Linked DNA regions of Homo sapiens. The protein of the gene in region 1 purifies or fractionates together with the protein of each later gene. This does not show direct contact. Each region holds a gene or a part of one and is shown on either strand. Other genes may lie near its edges.

Region 1 (9,184 bases):
TGTAACCTGTACACAGATTACAAGAAAAAGCTGAGGAATCAGTAGAGTTCTAAATTTCTCAACAGCAATACCACAATGTGGAAGTCAATAGAACAATGCCTTCAAAATTGCCATCTTAGAAATCTACACTCAGTCAAACTATCAATTGTCAGTTGAAAACACATTTTCAGGCATCTACAGTCTCAGAAAAGTAGACCTCTAGGCATCCTATTCCAGGAAGCTCCTTTAGGATGGGCTCTACCAAAAGAAGGGAGTCAACCAAGACTGAGGAAGACATGTGCTACAAGTACCAGGAGATCCAACACAAGAGACAAATGATGAGAATCTCCAGAATGATGACAAAGGGAACCCTTGGGGTGACAAGTGTGCCAATGTACCAAAGGCACCCAGTCTGGATTATAGCAAGCCAGTAGGCTCAGGAACAGCTTCTTGAGGAAAACGAAATTGACAAAATACCTGGTCAATTGAGGGAGAATTTGGAAAACTGGCCAAGAGCTGTGGGTTTAATCAATGAAGAGCACAAAATAAATAAAATGAACAAACAAATCCATTATTAACTCCAAGGAAAATAAAAAGTTATGTTTGGTCACGCCTGTAATCCCAGCACTTTGGGAGCCCAAGGCAAGTAGATCACCTGAGGTCACGAGTTTGAGACCAGCCTGATTAACATGGAGAAACCCCATCTCTACTAGAAATACAAAAATTAGCTAGGCGTGGTGGCACATGCCTGTAATCCCAACTACTCAGGAAGCCGAGGCAGGAGAATCGCTTGAACCCGGGAGGCAGAGGTTGTGGTGAGCCAAGATCGTGCCATTGCATTCCAGCCTGGGCAACAAGAGCAAAACTCTGTCTCAAAAAAAAAAAAAACGAAAAAAAAGTTATGCTTGGCTTAGCTGTGAATTTTGATCTAACCATTATTCAATATTCTGTTTTAACGACTGCAAGAATGGGAAAATAGGGAAGCTGTACTTGCGTTGGGGGTTGGAGGGAAAAAGAGAGCCAACTCATCATCTTCCACAGTGGGAAGTCAACAGATAATGCTTAAAATTGAAAAATCAAGAAGTATCAACTATAAGCCACAAATGGCAAAGAATTACAAGTGGTTGTTTCTGGAAAGGGAGAAATGTAACTTGGATAAAAGTTTAAAACTATAAACCATAACAAAACAAACTTTGGCTTCTGTGCCCACACATTTTTACATTTGTTTGCTTTTTCTTTGTTTCCCTAATAACAATCTGTTTTGAAAAAGCCCATCCTTGTTTCTCTAAACAAAAGAGTATGTAATTCTCTACATCTATACTACAGTAGCTGCGGTCATCTGAGCTCTGAGCAGTCAAACATGGTGGGGAAATTAATTGTTACAATCCAATCCCAGAAGAATTGGTTGAGCTGGGGTAGTGACAATAAGGCAAGCCCAAGCACAGGCGTGTTTGGAGGTGGAGGCAACTACTAGGCCCCTTCCTTCTGGGTTGTTTCTTATTTTTCCACAAACCTTTTATAATAGCATAACCACATCGTACAGGATAATTTTACAATTGCCAGTGACCATGAGCCAATTTCACTTTTTTCCAACAGACTTGAATGCCCAATTTATGATCGTAATTAGTCCAACCAAGGCAGCTGGCCCCCAAGACTGTTGATCTGGGTTTGACTTCAGTAACTCCACTTTGCCTGCTGTAGACTGGACAAGAAGGGAGCATAATAAAGGCTCTGAAGCAGCAGACATCCAAGGAGCATCCACGGGGAACCAGCACCATGCTGAAGATCAACACTCATGCTGACTCTGCAGACCAAGTACCCCTGCCCTGAACAACATGGTGATTTGTCTAGGGGTAAGAATCTGGGAGGGGTGGGGTGGAAGCTAAGGAGCTGGAACAGCTGGGGCAGGGAGGAGAGGCACCAACCTGGTCAACCTGGAGGAACCTGTAGGCAGAGGTGTGGCTGGAGGCCCAAGGCCCTGTCTCCCAGCACTCTGGATACCCGGAGAAAGGCAGAGAGGCCAGTAATTCTTCCCCAAGCGTAAAAGTAGGCCAGACACTGCTCACAACCCTTCCAACCTCCCTATCAAGGGTCAACTTAAGGAAGCAAAGGTTACCATTATCTCAGCTTTATTTTCCACGGTTTGGTAAAACATAGCTGCTGCCCTTGAGTAACTAGCTGCTGAGAAAACATGATTATCTTGATAAAGAATAAAGTAGGTTGAAAATGCTAGAGCATACATTAATATTCTATATCCTTTCCTAGTTGGGAAGATGTGAAAATTCTAGTTGGACCTATGTGGGGCAAAGGTATTGCCAACTAGAGTAAAGCACTGACTGCATGAGTTTACACTTGGCCTATACAGTTCCACAGACCAGAATGTACACACCCTTGTGAGAAGAGTCAAGATCATTAACATAAACACACCACAGTAAGCATCTGCGTTGGCAAGAGTGTAATATATGGATCAGATTAACTGGAGTATGGGGAAAGTGTAAGTCTTCCGTAAACATTGAAAATGTAACTAAACTAAAAAATACTTTCAAATACATAATGTGAAAGTTACCCATACTTCTATTTTCCCCTTAGAAATAAATCTTAATATCCCTTACTCCAGGTGATTATTGCAGAGTAAGCAGCTACCAGTGTCACGACCTAAACTGTTAAATCCCAAACTTTATTTGGGAGATCCGCTGGTTTGTTTCTTCCCAGCTCTTTAGCAGAGAATAATCTAGAAGTGAGTAAATTCTCAGAATTTCCCAAGAGGAAAATGAGCATTCACTGGAAAAATACAAGGAATACGCGCAAAACTTATAACTATTTTGGATAATCTTCAAACCCACTTAGCCACCAGCCATCCTGTTGTTCCAAGTTAACATTAAGATCAATCTTTCGAATCAAATATTCCAGTTTCCAAAGAATAGCAATGGATGAGATTGTTTCCAAACCTGGTACACACCACCATGTTACACGTCCACGGGAAAAATAAAATAAAATAAAATCCACAAGAAATTTAGGATTAAAGAAAATTAGGAAAGTGTACACTCCCAGGTCAAGGCCCTAGTTTTTCCAAGAAGTACATACATTGGCCGGGCACCTGTTTTCAATATTCAAACACAACTTCCCGGGGCGAGGTGGGCGGGGTATTGGGGGGGTGGGGAAGAGAACGTGAACTTCACTGGGTGAGTCACGTGCAACTGCGGAACATCTTGGCCGATACTGCCAAATTTTTTTTTTAATACTTTAAGTTCTAGGATACATGTGCACAACGTGCAGGTTTGTTACATATGTATACATGTGCCATGTTGGTGTGCTGCACCCATTAACTTGTCATTTACATTAGGTATATCTATCTCGACACTGCCAAATTTCAATCAAGATCGCGCCGCCGCCCAACCCGAAAGGAGGCATCAGCCCTGCTCGCCGCTGGGACGTGACCCCAACGCTGAACTTGCCGCAGGGCGGCCTCAGGCCTGGAACTTCAAGAAAAAGGGGCGGGTGTTCCTTAGGAGAGGTCAGTGCGGGAGTTGGAGAAGTGGAGAATCTACTGCCGGCAGGAAGGCGAGGCTGCGCCACTGCGCGCACCTGTCCCTCCTTCCCGGACCGAAGAGGGGACCCAGAGACGGCGCACCCGCGCTCACTGCGGCACGGAGGGGAGAAAATCCTTCCCCGTTCCTCGAGGGGCGTGTGGAAGCCGCCTCTTGCCGCGCTCATCCCCCTCCCCACCCGTCCTCGCCCGGAGTATCGCACTCCCGGGGCCGCCCCAGCCCGCCCGCGGCGCCCTTACCTGGCTGAAGCGCGGCTGCTGGGCGGACCTGGGGAGACTGCGAGGTGCAGTCTGCGCCGCGGAGTCCGGAGCCTAGCGCCCCAGAGTCCAGAGCAAAGCGCCCCGCCCCGCCCTCTGATCTCCCCGTCCCGCCCCCAATCACCCCGCCCCGCCCCGATTGCTGGCCCCGTGGACGCCCTACCCCGCCTCTGATCCTGCAGGCCCGCCCAGTCCTCGATCGCCCCGCCCCGGTCGCTTGGGCCCTGGGTGGCAGGTTTGCGCAGCCCTGCGGCGATTTCAAGGCAAGTGACCGGAATGGGTCGGAAGCGCGTCCCGGTGAGTTTCAGGGAGCGTCCCTTAGGTTTCCGGGGGCGGCGTTGAACCTCCCTAGCCCCAGTCTTCCCATCCCAGGAGACCCGCCCCTAGTGGCTCGAACGCCCCTAGCCAGGAGAGCCCCGAGTAGTGCCACTTGTGGAAGACTACGTGCCTGTCGGAATTAGGAACCGCACCTCCCCTTCCGCTAAGCGGTGGGAGGCCAGGCGGGTGACGCGGAGCAGTGGAGCCATGCAGCCTGTTTTACCAAAAGAGTAAGTGGTTTTCCTGTGAAACCCGAGGGAGCAGTGCATATCTGATACACTTAGAGGGTCACGTGCACTATTAATGTGTTAACATTAAACTCACTGAAGAGTAGAAAACACATGTAAGACTTAACTGTGTGCCAGGCACTGTTCTAGGTACTTCACATGTACTAAAAGTTCTCTGAAGCGTATATTATCAGAATCCCCCTTTTCACATACGGTGCAAGTGAGGCAGAGAGAAGCTAAATAACTTGCCTAATGTCACCCAACTAGTAAATTGAGAAGCTGGGTTGAGAAGCTGGGCTTCAAATCCAGGTCTTCCTCCTCTGGAGTCTCCACTGTTATTCACGGCTATCCTGAATCAGCAAAATCTGTGTGCATCCTATACCAGGAACTGTTCCCATGCCTGGGGAAGATGAGGCAAGGACTCTGCCATTAGGAAACTTTTATTCTACTGTAGGAGAAAGACAATAAGTGATTGTCGACTAAAATTTAAAAATCAAGCTGTTAAAGAATGAAAGTTAGTTTTATTCAGAAGTCTTACTGAGGACTAGAGATGGAGGCCTACAGCCCTGGAGGAGTCTTTTAGAGAGATTCAAGCAGATCCCTCCAACACAGAACTTCCCTTCTCAATTTAGAAACAGTTGGTGAAGATTCAGTATGTGTAAAAGCACATCACAGTTTGGGCTTAAGAGTACATCTGTTTATAGATTACAGAAGCATAATCACTAACCTCATCAGACTTTATCTTAGGTGCAGTAAAAGGCAAGGGCTCAGGCAAGAGACGTGGGGGATCCTGTGTTCTATCTCGTTTTGTCTTCAAAGCATCTTTCCGCCAGCTGCAGGTGGTCACAGAGTCAGGGGCTGTGTGAAATTATGCTGACAAGCAGAAATGAGCAAGCATGGCTTCTTAACGTTTGTTACTTGTCTCACATGATCAACAGGCAAGCAAAAAATTAAACCACTTCGTAAGTGAGGTGTCTTGACTAAAATAAAGCAGGGTGATGGAATTGAGAGTGAAAGGGAGAGGGAGGCTACTTTAGATATGATGTTACTGGAGGCTTCTCTGGGGTAACAGTGGAGCTGAGACCTGAATGATAGGACAGACGGCCAACCCAAGGCTGAAGCTAAGGGAATGGCAAGTGCTTTGATACTTATCACACCTCATGCTTGCTTGGGACTTAAAAGTAGTGCCTTCCTATATCATTTCTCCTTTGATCACTGTAATAACCCTGAGAAGTCTAACAAGATTCCATTTAATACAGTGGTCCCCAACCTTTTTGGCACCAGGGACTGGTTTTATGGAAGATAATTTTTCCATGGACAGGTGTCAGGAAGAGATGGTTTGAGGATGAAACTGTTCCACCTCAGATCATCAGGCATTAGATTCTCGTAACGCGTACACCACCTAGATCCCTCGAATGCACAGTTCACACTAGGGTTTGCACTCCTGAGAGAATCTAAGGCCAAGGCTGATCTGACAGGAGGCGGAGCTCAGCCGTAATGCAGGCAATGGGGAGTGGCTGTAAATACAGATGAAGCTTTGCTCCCTTGCCCACCGCTCAACCGCTTACCTCCTGCTATGCGGCCAGGTTCCTAACAGACCTCAGACCGGTACTGGTCCACAGCCTGCGGGTTGGGGAACCCTGATTTAACAGGGAAAACAATAACAGCAACAACAACTGAGGGTCAGAGAGGTTTCAATGACTTTCCAAAAGTCAGACAACTATCTAGGAAAAGGGGAGATGGGAAGAGGGCACAGATTTGGACCAAGGCCTTCTGATTACAAATCCTCTCTCCAGTGAGGACTTTGAGTATAATGACTAGTACTTTGAATGAATCTAGTAAAATTTCTTTTTTATGATCTACTCTCTCCTCCCTACCCGAGTCTCTCCTGCCTCTTGTCCCATTCAGGTACTTGTTTTGGCTAGTTAACGTAATTTCCCCTAGCACAGATGTACTTTGAGGGGACAGGACCATAAACCATCTGAAACTCTATGCAAAAAAACTGTGTTGGGGGGCAGGAAAGAGAGTTATAGATATATAATTATAGTAATACAGTTAATTTTCTCCCAAGAAAAATGCTTATGTACGTATATTTTTAAGTGAGAGGACTTAGAACTTTTATCATATTGACTGATCCCAAAAAGGTAAGAGCTACTGCCTTAAGGAATTAACTGATATTATGATGGTTAGAAGAACCAGTTTCCAATTCGCCTTGCCTGTTCTTGGTAGGTGATGGTAGCTCATATTCTTGACAATGGTAATGAGGATCTCAATGTTTATGAAGTTTGAAAAGGCAGAAAACCCAGACCCTTACATAATTTCTTCATAAAGTTTAAATTAAAAGAGAGAAAAGTGTCTGTATTGTCCCTACTAACTCTCAGAAAAGCCAAAGAGAACAGATCTGTAAATAAAACACCTAGATCCAACATAATTCTTAATAGTTGGGGTAATTTTCATAAAGTTATAGTTTTCTAAATAAGACATTTGTTACACTATCAATCATACAGTTTAAGTAGGCAATTGCCACAGGTATACCATCCATAGATCACATAATAGAGAACAATGGCAATTTTTTTCAGCAAGGTGTTGAGAAAGAGACAGAGAGACAGACAAAAAAAAGAGGCCATTAGGGAACTTCAACTACATTAAGGAAAAGGTGTAAAAACTGAACTCAGAATGTGGTGGGATTAATAAAAAAGATTTAGTCTTTCTTTAATTTTTATTTTTTAGGTGAAAACAGAATACTACATTTGGGCCTGTATAATTCAAACTTTTACATTCGTCCCTAGTCAAAAGAAGGAATCTAGTAGTTGACTTAAAAAGATTTCTCCCCCTGCCTCCAAAAAGAAGACTCAAACAATATTAGTAAAACCATCTTTATTTTAAGAAAATCAAGATACAGAGAAAAAGGTATTAATATAAACTTCTTGGGAGACAAGACTCTCCCTTCTTACAAGATATCGCTATGGCTTCCATAAAGTTTATTTGTTTAGATGATCAGTATCAGGTTGACATAATTTCAGTTCCTTGAGAGACGAAAATGCCTCTTTTTAACTTACATGTAGATTCCACATGGTACAGAAGAAGACATGCAGAATCAACCTGGAAGGTTTGCAAAAATATATGTGTGTATATATTTGTATTTATAGCTTCTTGCCTTTTTTTTTTTTTTCTGAGACAGAGTCTTGTTCTGTTGCCCAGGCTGGAGTGCAGTGGCACAATCTCGGCTAACTGAAACCTCTGCCTCCTGGGTTCAAGCAATTCTCCTGCCTCAGCCTCCTGAGTAGCTGGGATTACAGGTGCCTGCCACCACGCCTGGCTAATTTTTGTATTTTTAGTAGAGATGGGGTTTTACCATGTTGACCAGGCTGGTCTTGAACTCCTGACCTTGTGATCCGCCCGCCTCAGCCTCCCAAAGTGCTGAGATTACAGGCATGAGCCAGCATGCCCGGCCAGCTTCTTGCATTCTTTTGTGCAAGTCACTGGTTTTATTTTGTAACCATCTTCCTACTGAAAAGGAAACTGGCCCATCATAGATAATTAATACATTTGTTGATGAATAAATGATGATGACAATGACGATAATGCAGACCTTATCAGTCTTCCATGGAGAGTCTGTTCCTACATGAAGATGACTTCATTGTGATCCTATGATATGTCTGCTTCTCCTTCCATCATGTGCTGAAAGTAGTTGCTTCTTTAGAACTATTGCATAGAAGGAAGGAGTTTCAAATATTGGACACAGAATCAATAATCATATTTCTGGGAAGAGATGCTAAATAAATAATTCAAAAGAAATAAAAAGCATCATATGCAAAGTATATTTATAAGATCATTATAATAATAAAATAAATGTCCAATAATAAGGAAATGTTTAAGTAAAATATATTAACAGTATGGAATGTCAAGCTGTCATTTAAAATTACCTATGTTGGTCAGGCATGGTGGCTCACACCTATAATCCCAGCACTTTGGGAGGCTGAGGCGGGTGGATCTTTTGAGCTCTGGAGTTCAAGACCAGCCTGGACAACATGGCGAAACTCCATCTCTACTAAAAATACAAATATTAGCCAGGCTTGGTGGTGCTCACCTGCAGTCCCAGCTATTCGGGAGGCTGAGGTAGGAGGATTGCTTGAGCCCAGGAGGGCAGGGTTGCAGTGAGCTGAGATCGTGCCACTGCACTCCAACCTGGGCAACAGAGCAAGAACCTGTCTCTAAATAAGTTAATTAATTAATTAAATAATAAAATAAGATTACCTATGTTAATGAAAAAGAGATAGGAAATAAAACTTATGAACAAGATTATATTTTTAAAAGTAGAACACAATGCTTTGAGTACCTGTAATTGCAACTAAATACAAATTATGTGGAGGAAAACTGAAAAGTAAGAATTATGATTAACAGTTATTGAGGGGATGTGCCAGCATCCTTTCTAAGCATATTAGATTAATTCATTTAATTCTCACAGCTGTGTGAGGTGGACTATTGTTATCTTCATTTTACAGATGAAGAAACAAAGGCAGAGAAGGTCTAAGTAATAGCCCAAAATCATAGTTATTGAGTGGCAAAGCCCAGATGTGAACATAAAACAGTATAACTCCAGGGTTTACATTTTTAACCTTTCAAAGCTGCCAAAGGGAATGATCTTTGAATCATGAATGATGTTTATACATATATTTCTTGTATAATGTTTTTATGTTGGTTTGATAGTAATTGAAAATTTTTTCGATGTTAGAGCCAGAAAAGAAGATGTAGAAGTAAAACCAGATTGTGCTTAGCAAAAGAGACAGAGAGTTTCAAAGGGGTCCATTATCTCAACAGTTTGATAGTTTATAAAAGCTGAGTTGTTCTGTCA
Region 2 (8,774 bases), on another chromosome or scaffold:
CTCTGCGTGGCCACTGGAGGGAGCAGGGCTGTGTCTCCCAGACGCCTGTGCCAAGTTATGCCTACTGAGAAGGTATCGCCAAGGCACAGCTAGGTAGGACTCAGAAGTCAAGTTCAACTCCCTCCCTGTACAGCAGAGGAAACTGAGGCCTGGAGATAGGATCTGCCTCAGTGTGAGCCACAGTGCTGAGTGCTGCTGGGCTAGCCTAGGTTGCTAAATTGGCTCTGCCGAGGGCACAGCCAACTGCTAAATGATTGGAAGGCCCATGGGACACAGGCTGCTGGGCAGTGCAGCCCTGGGAGTGCAGGCCTAGGATCTTCCCTGACACTCACAGTTTCTGCCAGGAGCATGCCGGGCCCCACCCTCTTCATCTAAAGAGCCTTTCTTTGCTGCAAATGAGTTGTCTTAGTGACTTCTGACATGCTTACCCAGGTGCAGTGGCGTGTTCCCCAGCCCATCTCGCTGGTTAGGATCAGCACCATGGTCCAGGAGCAGCTGCACTGGAAACAGGCAAACCCAAGAGGAGTTGTCGGAGGCTTCCATTGCCTGCACCCTGAACCCCTAACCTAGCTAGAGAGGCTGGCTCAGAGTAGGGGACACGGAATGCAAGCATGGATGGCTGTGTTACTTCATTCATTCACTCACTCACTCACTTACTTACCAGAGTTCATGGGCAAAGCCCTGAGGGCCAGGAACTGAGGATTTGGGGAGGGCCTCTTGGCCTATGCAGGTGTAGGAATGAGATTTGAAGGGTTAAGTAAAGTTCTTCCAATAGCAGCTGCTCCTGGTGAAGGCTGTCCAGGGCATTTTCTGCTTCTCCCACAGCCAAGCACCATGGTAGGAATTAAGTCAATAAATGATGCTGAGCTCCATGGATAACCTCTCCCTCCTGGCAGTCTTGGGATCACCTCAGGGGTGTGCTGTATTATCACCAGGGTCTGCCAATACCCAGAAGGATGCATAGGCAGGTAGCCTGGATCCCAGACATCATACAGGGAGGTCAGGCTGAGCCTCACACCATGTACAAAAACTAATTCAAGAGGGACCATAGACATAAGTGTGAATGCTAAAACAGGCTTCCAGAAGAACATGAACATCTTGGGCAGGCAAAGATTTCTTAAATAGGTCACAAAAATACTAACCATAGGAAAGAAAAGGCCAGGCATGGGAGCTCAGGCCTGTTAATCCCAGCACTTTGGGATGCCGAGGCAGGTGGATCATTTGAGCTCAGGAGTTCAAGACCAGCCTGGGCAACATGGAGAAACCCTTTCTCTATACTAAAAACACAAAAATTAGCTGGGCATAGTGATGGCAGACTTGTAGTCCCAGCTACTTGAGAGGCTGAGGTGGCAGGGCGGCTTGAGCCCAGAAGGTCGAGGTTGCAGTCAGCCGAGATGGTGCCAGTGCACTCCAGCCTAGGCAACAGAGACAGACCCTGTCTCAAAAAAAAAAAAAAAAAAAAAAAAAAAAAAAGAGAAAGGAAAGAAATATTGATAAATTGGATTCATTAAAATTAAGAACATGGCTGGGCACGGTGGCTCATGCCTGTAATCCCAGCACTTTGGGAGGCCAAGGCAGCCAGATCATCTGAGGTCAGGAGTTCAAGACCAGGCTGTTCAACATGTTGAAACTGTCTGTACTAAAAACACAAAAATTAGCTGGGTGTGGTGGCATACCCCTGTAGTCTCAGCTACTTGGGAGGCTGAGGCAGGAGAATTGCTGGAACCTAGGAGGTGGAGGTTCCAGGGAGCCAAGATCATGCCACTGAACTCCAGCCTGGGTGACAGAGCGAGACTCTGTCTCCAAAAAATAAAAAATAAAATAGGCCAGGGCACAGGAGCTCACGCCTGTAATCCCAGCACTTTGGGAGGCCAAGGCGGGTGGATCATCGGAGGTCAGGAGTTCGAGACCAGCCTGACCAACATGGTGAAATCCCATCTCTACTAAAAATAAAAAATTAGGTGGGTGTGGTGACACGCATCTGTAATCCCAGCTACTCAGGAGGCTGAGGTGGGAGAATAGCTTGAACCTGGGGAGCAGAGCTTGCAGTGAGCCAAGATCACACCACTGCACTCCAGCCTAGGCAACAGAGTGAGACTCTGTCTCAAATAAATAAATAAATAAATAAAAATAAAATTAGGAACTTGTGTTCATCAAAGTATACCACTCAGAAAATGAAACAGCAAGCTCAGAAAATCAAGTCATTTATATTTGATAAATGATTTCTAACCAGAATATACAAAGAATTCTTACAAATCAATAAGAAAAAGGCCAGGCGCAGTGGCTCATGCTTGTAATCCCAATACTTTGGGAGGCCAAGGTGACAGGATCGCCTGAGCCCAAGAGTTAGAGAACAGCTGGGTAACATAGCAGGACCACGTCTCTACAAGATGTTTTAAAATTAGCTGGGCTTGGTGGTGTGCACCTGTCGTCCCAGCTACTTGGGAGGCTGAGGCAGGAGGATTGCTTGAGCCTAGGAGATTGAGGCTGCAGTGGGCAGTGATCAGGCCACTGCACGTAAGCCTGGATGACAGAGTGAGACTTTGTCTCAAAAAAAGAAAAAGACAGAAAACTAGTTTTTTTTGTTTGTTTGTTTGTTTTTGAGACAGAGTCTTGCTTTCTCTCCCAGTCTGGAGTGCAGTCACGCGATCTCGGCTCACTGTAAGCTCCGCCTCCCGGCTTCACACCATTCTCCTGCCTCAGCGAGTAGCTGGAACTACAGGCACCCGCCACCACACCCGGCTAAGTTTTTGTATATTTAGTAGAGATGGGGTTTCACCGTGTTAGCCAGGATGGTCTCGATCTCCTGACCTCATGATCCACCCGCCTCGGCCTCCCAAAGTGCTGGGATTACAGGCGTGAGATACCGCGCCCAGGCAAAACTTGTTTTTAAAAAAATGGACAAAAGAGGCCAGGTGCGGTGGCTCACGCCTGTAATCCCAGCGCTATGGGAGGCCGAGGCGGGTGGATCACCTGAGGTCAGGAGTTCGAGACCAGCCTGACCAACATGGAGAAACCCGGTCTCCACTAAAAATACAAAATTAGCCGGGCGTAGTGGCGCATGCCTGTAATCCCAGCTACTTGGGAGGATGAGGCAGGAGAATCACTTTAACCCGGGAGGCAGAGGTTGTGGTTAGCCGAGATCACGCCATTGCACTCCAGCCTGGGCAACAAAGAGTGAAACTCTGTCTCAAAAAAAAAAAAAAAAAAAAAAAAAGGACAAAAGATTTGAACATATAGTTCATAAAAGAGGATGTAAAAATGGTCAATAATTGGACACAGGGAGGGGAACATCACATACCAGGGCCTGTCGGGGGGTGGGGGCCAAGGGGAGGGAGAGCATTAGGACAAATACCTAATGCATGAGGGGCTTAAAACCTAGATGACGGGTTGATGGGTACAGAAAACCACCACGGCACAGGTGTACCTATGTAACGAACCTGCACGTTCTGCACATGCATCCCAGAACTTAAAGTTTAAAAAAAAAAATGGCCCGGGCATGGTGGCTCACACCTGTAATCCCAGCACTTTGGGAGGCCGAGACAGGTGGATCTCCTGAGGTCAGGAGTTTGTGACTAGCCTGGCCAACATGGTGAAACCCTGTCTCTACTAAAAATACAAAAATTAACTGGGTGTGATGATGCGTGCCTATAATCCCAGCTACCCGGGAGGCTGAAGCAGGAGAATTACTCAAACCCAGGAGGTGGAGGTTGCAATGAGCCGAGATCACGCCATTGCACTCCAGCCTGGGCGACAGGCAAGACTCCGTCTCAAAAAAAAAAAAAAAAGGCCAATAAACACATGAAGAGGTGCTCAACGTTACTGGCCATCAGAGAAATGCAAATTAAACCACTATGAGACACCAAAAGGGTTAAGATTAAAGAGAGACAACAGCAAGCACTGGCAGGGACGTAGGGAAAGGTGGAACTCTTACACTGCTGGTGGGGAGTGGGAGTGTGTGTCAGTACATCCCTTTTGGGAAAAGGTTTAGTAGTACCTACTAAAGCTAAATACATGTGTACCCTAGTGACCCAACAATGCCATTCCTAGGTTTATAGAGGATAGATGAGTGTTTACAGCCACAAATCACATATACAAGAATGTTCACAACACTTCATTCATAAAGCTAAAACCTGGAAACACCACAAATGTCCGTCAATAGTAGAATGGATAAATGGGGTATATCACAATGAAATACAAACCAGCATAAGAAAGTACTAACTACAGTCCACCCTCCCTAACTGTGAATACTGTGTCCACAGATTCAATGAACCCTGGACTCAGAACCCGAGGATATGGAGGGCCAACTTCAAAGGACTTGAGCATCCATGGAGTTTGGTATCTGAGTGGGGTCCTGGAACCAATCCCAAGAACACTGAGGGAAGACTGTACTGATATAGGCAGTATTCATGGGTGAATCTCATGGAGATAACTTTGAGTAAAAGTATGCAAGGCTGGTGCAGTGGCTCACGCCTGTAATCCCAGCACTTTGGGAGGCCAAGGCAGGTGGATCACGAGGTCAGGAGTTCAAGACCAGCCTGGCCAACATGGTGAAACCCCATCTCTACTAAAAAATACAAAAAAATTAACCGGTGTGGCCGGGTGCAGTCTCTCATGCCTGTAATCCCAGCACTTTGGGAAGCCGAGGCGGGTGGATCACGAGGTCAGGAGATCGAGACCATACTGGCTAATACAGTGAAACCCCGTCTCTACTAAAAACATATAAAAAATTAGCCAGGCATGGTGGCGGGTGCCTGTAGTCCCAGCTACTTGGGAGGCTGAGGCAGGAGAATGGCGTGAACCCGGGAGGCAGAGCTTACAGTGAACCGAGATGGCACCACTGCACTCCAGCCTGGGCGACAGAGCGAGACTCCATCTCAAAAAAAAAAAAGACTCCTATAAAAAGAGAAAAGCTGTCCTGCTGCTGTGGTTGGCACTGAGTAAATGTTACCTGAAAGTCTTGAAGGCCTGGGCCCTGCACTCTCCAGTGGTCTCTTAGTTGGAGATATCCCTTCATCCTCAGTCAATCATATTATCTCCCCCAGGTTTACCCTGCCCCAGTCTAACATTGCCAGTTCCACAGGCTAACAGAGGGAGAAGGGCAGGGCACTGCAGTGCCAAGTCTTCCTTATATCCAGAACAACTGGGCATCCCAAGGCTGTGCAGACAGCAGCGCCTCCCCCAAGGCCTGTGCAGAGACACTACTTGCCTAGCCCTACTCCCTCCTCCCTCCCCAGGACTCACCAATCTGGTCATTGCCATTGCATGAGGCAAAGTGTAGAGCTGTGCGGCCCTTGTCATCAGCTGCACAGGGATCCGCGCCATCTTCCAGCAGCTGCTGCACTGACACCACCAAGACAGAGGGAGGAAGGGGGAGAAAGCGGCGATGTTAGCTAAGCTGCAGACCCGAGCGATGGAGAGGGAGGCTCAGGGGTGCCTCTAGACAAGACATCGACAATGCATAGGAAAGCAGCCCTTCCTAGATGCTGGTCCTATGGGAACAAGCAACTTGTTCTTCTGAGGGCACAACTGAAGGCCATGGATTCTGAGTGCTCAAACTACACGTCTAGTGATAGAACATCGTAGGAGGTTCAAGGCCCTCAGGGTCAGAAATTTTAGGGTCACAGGAATCCCTAGCATAGACAGTGGTCCCCCTCCCGTGACCTCGGCTTGGATACACATCCATTCTGGCTGGAAACAGCTGCCCAAGCTATTGGCCTATGCTATGCTCCCAGCAGGCAGCAATCCCCCAGCTACTTGGGGCCTCCCAAGTAGCCCCCAGCTAATTTTTGTATTTTTAGTAGAGACGGGGTTTCACCATATTGGTCAGGCTGGTCTCGACCTCCTGACCTTAGGTGATCCGCCCACTTCAGCCTCCCAAAGTGCTGGGATTACAGGCGTGAGCCACCACACCCGGCCCGAAAAAATGTTTATGATACACAAAAAATTATGCAGGCTACAGCATGTGTATATAGCAGTTTGCAAGCCAGCCCATAAAGAAAATTCCAGTGTATAGGAAAGAAGCCTTGAAGGATATTCATCAAAATATTAACAGATTAGTTCCTTTGCGGACATGGATTTTTTCTTATATATTTCTCTAATTTCCACAACATTTTTAAAAAATTTTTTTCTTATGTTATTTATTTATTTGAGACAGAATTTCGCTCTGTCGCGCAGGCTAGAGTGCAGTGGCGTCATCTCCGCTCACTGCAAGCTCTGTCTCCCAGGTTCACACCATTCTCCTGCCGCAGCCTCCCAAGTAGCTGGCACTACAGGCGCCCACCACCACGTCCGGCTAATTTTTTGTATTTTCAGTAGAGATGGGGTTTCACAGTGTTAGCCAGGATGGTCTCGATCTCCTAACCTCGTGATCTGCCCAGCTCGGCCTCCCAAAGTGCTGGGATTACAGGCGTGAGCCACCGCGCCCAGCTAACATTTACTTTTTGTAGAGACGAGGTCTCCCTATGTTGTCCAGGCTGGTCTCAAACTCCTGAGCCCAAGTGATCCTCTTGCCTTAGCCTCCCAAAGTGCTGGGATTACAGGCATGAGCCACCTCACCTGGCCGTGGCAGCTAAGTTGAGTATTCACTCCCATTAACCACAAGTTCCAAAGTTAGTGCCTACTCTTTGCAGAAGACTGTGCTGGCTGCCAGGGATACAAAAGTATACATGGTCTCCACCATCAAGGAGTCCACAGGGTGGTAAATGCTATGACATCAGGAAGTTCAAAGTGACAGGGGAGCATGGGGAGAGTGAGTGTCTAAGCCAGACTTACCTTCAGCAAGATGACTGCACAGTCAGACAATAAATACAGTGAGCCTGCTCCAAGGGCGTGAGTTTGCAGACTGCCTTCCCACATATTGATTACCTGGCCTTTTCCTTCCCCAACCAGCCCATGGGACCCTGTAGCTGGACCTACTGTGCACACTCACCTGTTTCCACATCATTGGCATTGGCCGAGTCCCTCAGTCTCTTCAGAGCTGTAAAGAGAGTAACGGATGCCAGTTTAAAAAAACAGCCATGGCTGGGTGCGGTGGCTCATGCCTATAATCCCAGCACTCTGGGAGGCCAAGGCAGGCAGATCACAAGGTCAGGAGATCGAGACCATCCTGGCTAACATGGTGAAACCCCATCTCTACTAAAAATACAAAAAAATTAGCCGGGCGTGGTGGCAGGTGCCTGTAGTCCCAGCTACTCGGGAGGCTGAGGCGGGTGAATGGCGTGAACCTGGGAGGTGGAGCTTGCAGTGAGCAGAGATCGCGCCACTGCACTCCAGCCTGGGTGACAGAGTGAGACTCCGTCTCAAAACAAACAAACAAACAAACACACACAAAAAAAACACAGCCATTGGCTGGGCATGATGGCTCACGTCTGTAATCCCAGCACTTTGGGAGGCCGAGGCAGGTGGATCACTTGAGGCCAGGAGTTCAAAACCAGCCTGGACAACATGGTGAAACCCCATCTCTACTAAAAATACAAAAAAATTAGCCGGGTGTGGTGCACATGCCTGTAATCCCAGCTACTCTGGAGGCTGAGGTAGGAGAATCACTTGAACCCAGGACATGGAGGTTGCAGTAAGCCAAAATCGCGCCACTGCACTCCAGCCTGGGTGACAGAGTGAGACGCTGTCTCAGAAAAAAACAAAAACAACAAAAACCAACAAAAAAAACCCAGCCATCTAGCTGGGTGTGGTGGTGTGCACGTGTAACACCAGCTACTTAGGAGGCCGAGGTAGGAGAATGGGTTGAAGCCGGAAGGCGGAGGCTACAGTGAGATGAGATCACGCCACTGCATTCCAGCCTGGGCAACAAAGTGAGACTGTCTCAGGAAAAAAAAAAAAAAAAAAAGCCACAATGGCTGGGCGCAGTGGCTCATGCCTATAATCCCGGTACTTTGGGAGGCCAAGGCAGGTGGATCACTTGAGGCCAGGAGTTCAAGACCAGCCTGGCCAACATGCTGAAACCCCATCTCTACTAAAAATACAAAACTAGCCATACGTGGTGACTCACGCCTGTAATCCCAGAACGTTGGAAAGCTGAGGTGGGCAGATTGCCTGTGCTCTGGAGTTTGAAACCACCCTGGGCAACATGGTGAAACCTTGTCTATACTAAAATACAAAAAATTAGTTGGGCATGGGGGTGCACGCCTACAATCCCAGCTACTTGGGAGGCTCAGGCAGGAGAATCGCTTAAGCCCAGGAGGCAGAGGTTGCAGTGAGCCAAGACTGTGCCACTGTACTCCAGCTCGGGCAACAGAGTGAGACTCTGTCTCACACAAACACACACACACACACACACACACACAAAAAACATAGGCCGGGCACAGTGGCTCACGCCTGTAATCCCAACACTTTGAGAGGCCAAGGTGGGTGGATCACGAGGTCAGGAGTTTGAGACCAGCCTGGCCAATAAGGTGAAATCCCTTCTCTACTAAAAATACAAAAATTAGCCAGGCATGGTGGTGCATGCCTGTTATCCCAACTACTCAGGAGGCTAAGGCAGGAGAATCACTTGAACTTGAGAGCCGGAGGTTGCAGTGAGCCAAGATCGCGCCACTGCACTCCAGCCTGGGCAATAGAGCAAGACTCTGTCTCAAAATAAATAAATAAATAAATAAATAAATAAATAAATAAATAAATAAATAAAATAAAAACACAAAAATTAGCCGGGTGTGGTGGTGCATGCCTGTAATCCCAGCTACTTGGGAGGCTGAGACACGAGAATCACTTGAGCCCAAAATCACACCATGGCACTCCAGCCTGGGTGGCAGAGCAAC

The links. Proteins that work in one complex are often made in the same cells at the same time.
Region 2: the proteins of TEC (region 1) and ANKRD54 purify together in Homo sapiens (affinity purification with mass spectrometry; 2 studies listed by BioGRID and IntAct, with this or other methods). This does not show direct contact.

Annotation. Positions count from the first base shown.
Region 1 is NC_000004.12:48,265,986-48,275,169, forward strand, and holds the start of TEC (tyrosine-protein kinase Tec), read right to left. Parts: upstream 3,854-9,184; 5' UTR 3,767-3,853; intron 1-3,766.
Region 2 is NC_000022.11:37,833,256-37,842,029, forward strand, and holds part of ANKRD54 (ankyrin repeat domain-containing protein 54), read right to left. Parts: intron 6,980-8,774; coding exon 6,932-6,979; intron 5,344-6,931; coding exon 5,245-5,343; intron 723-5,244; coding exon of another isoform or gene 662-722; intron 501-661; coding exon 429-500; intron 1-428. UniProt on the Homo sapiens protein: Plays an important role in regulating intracellular signaling events associated with erythroid terminal differentiation.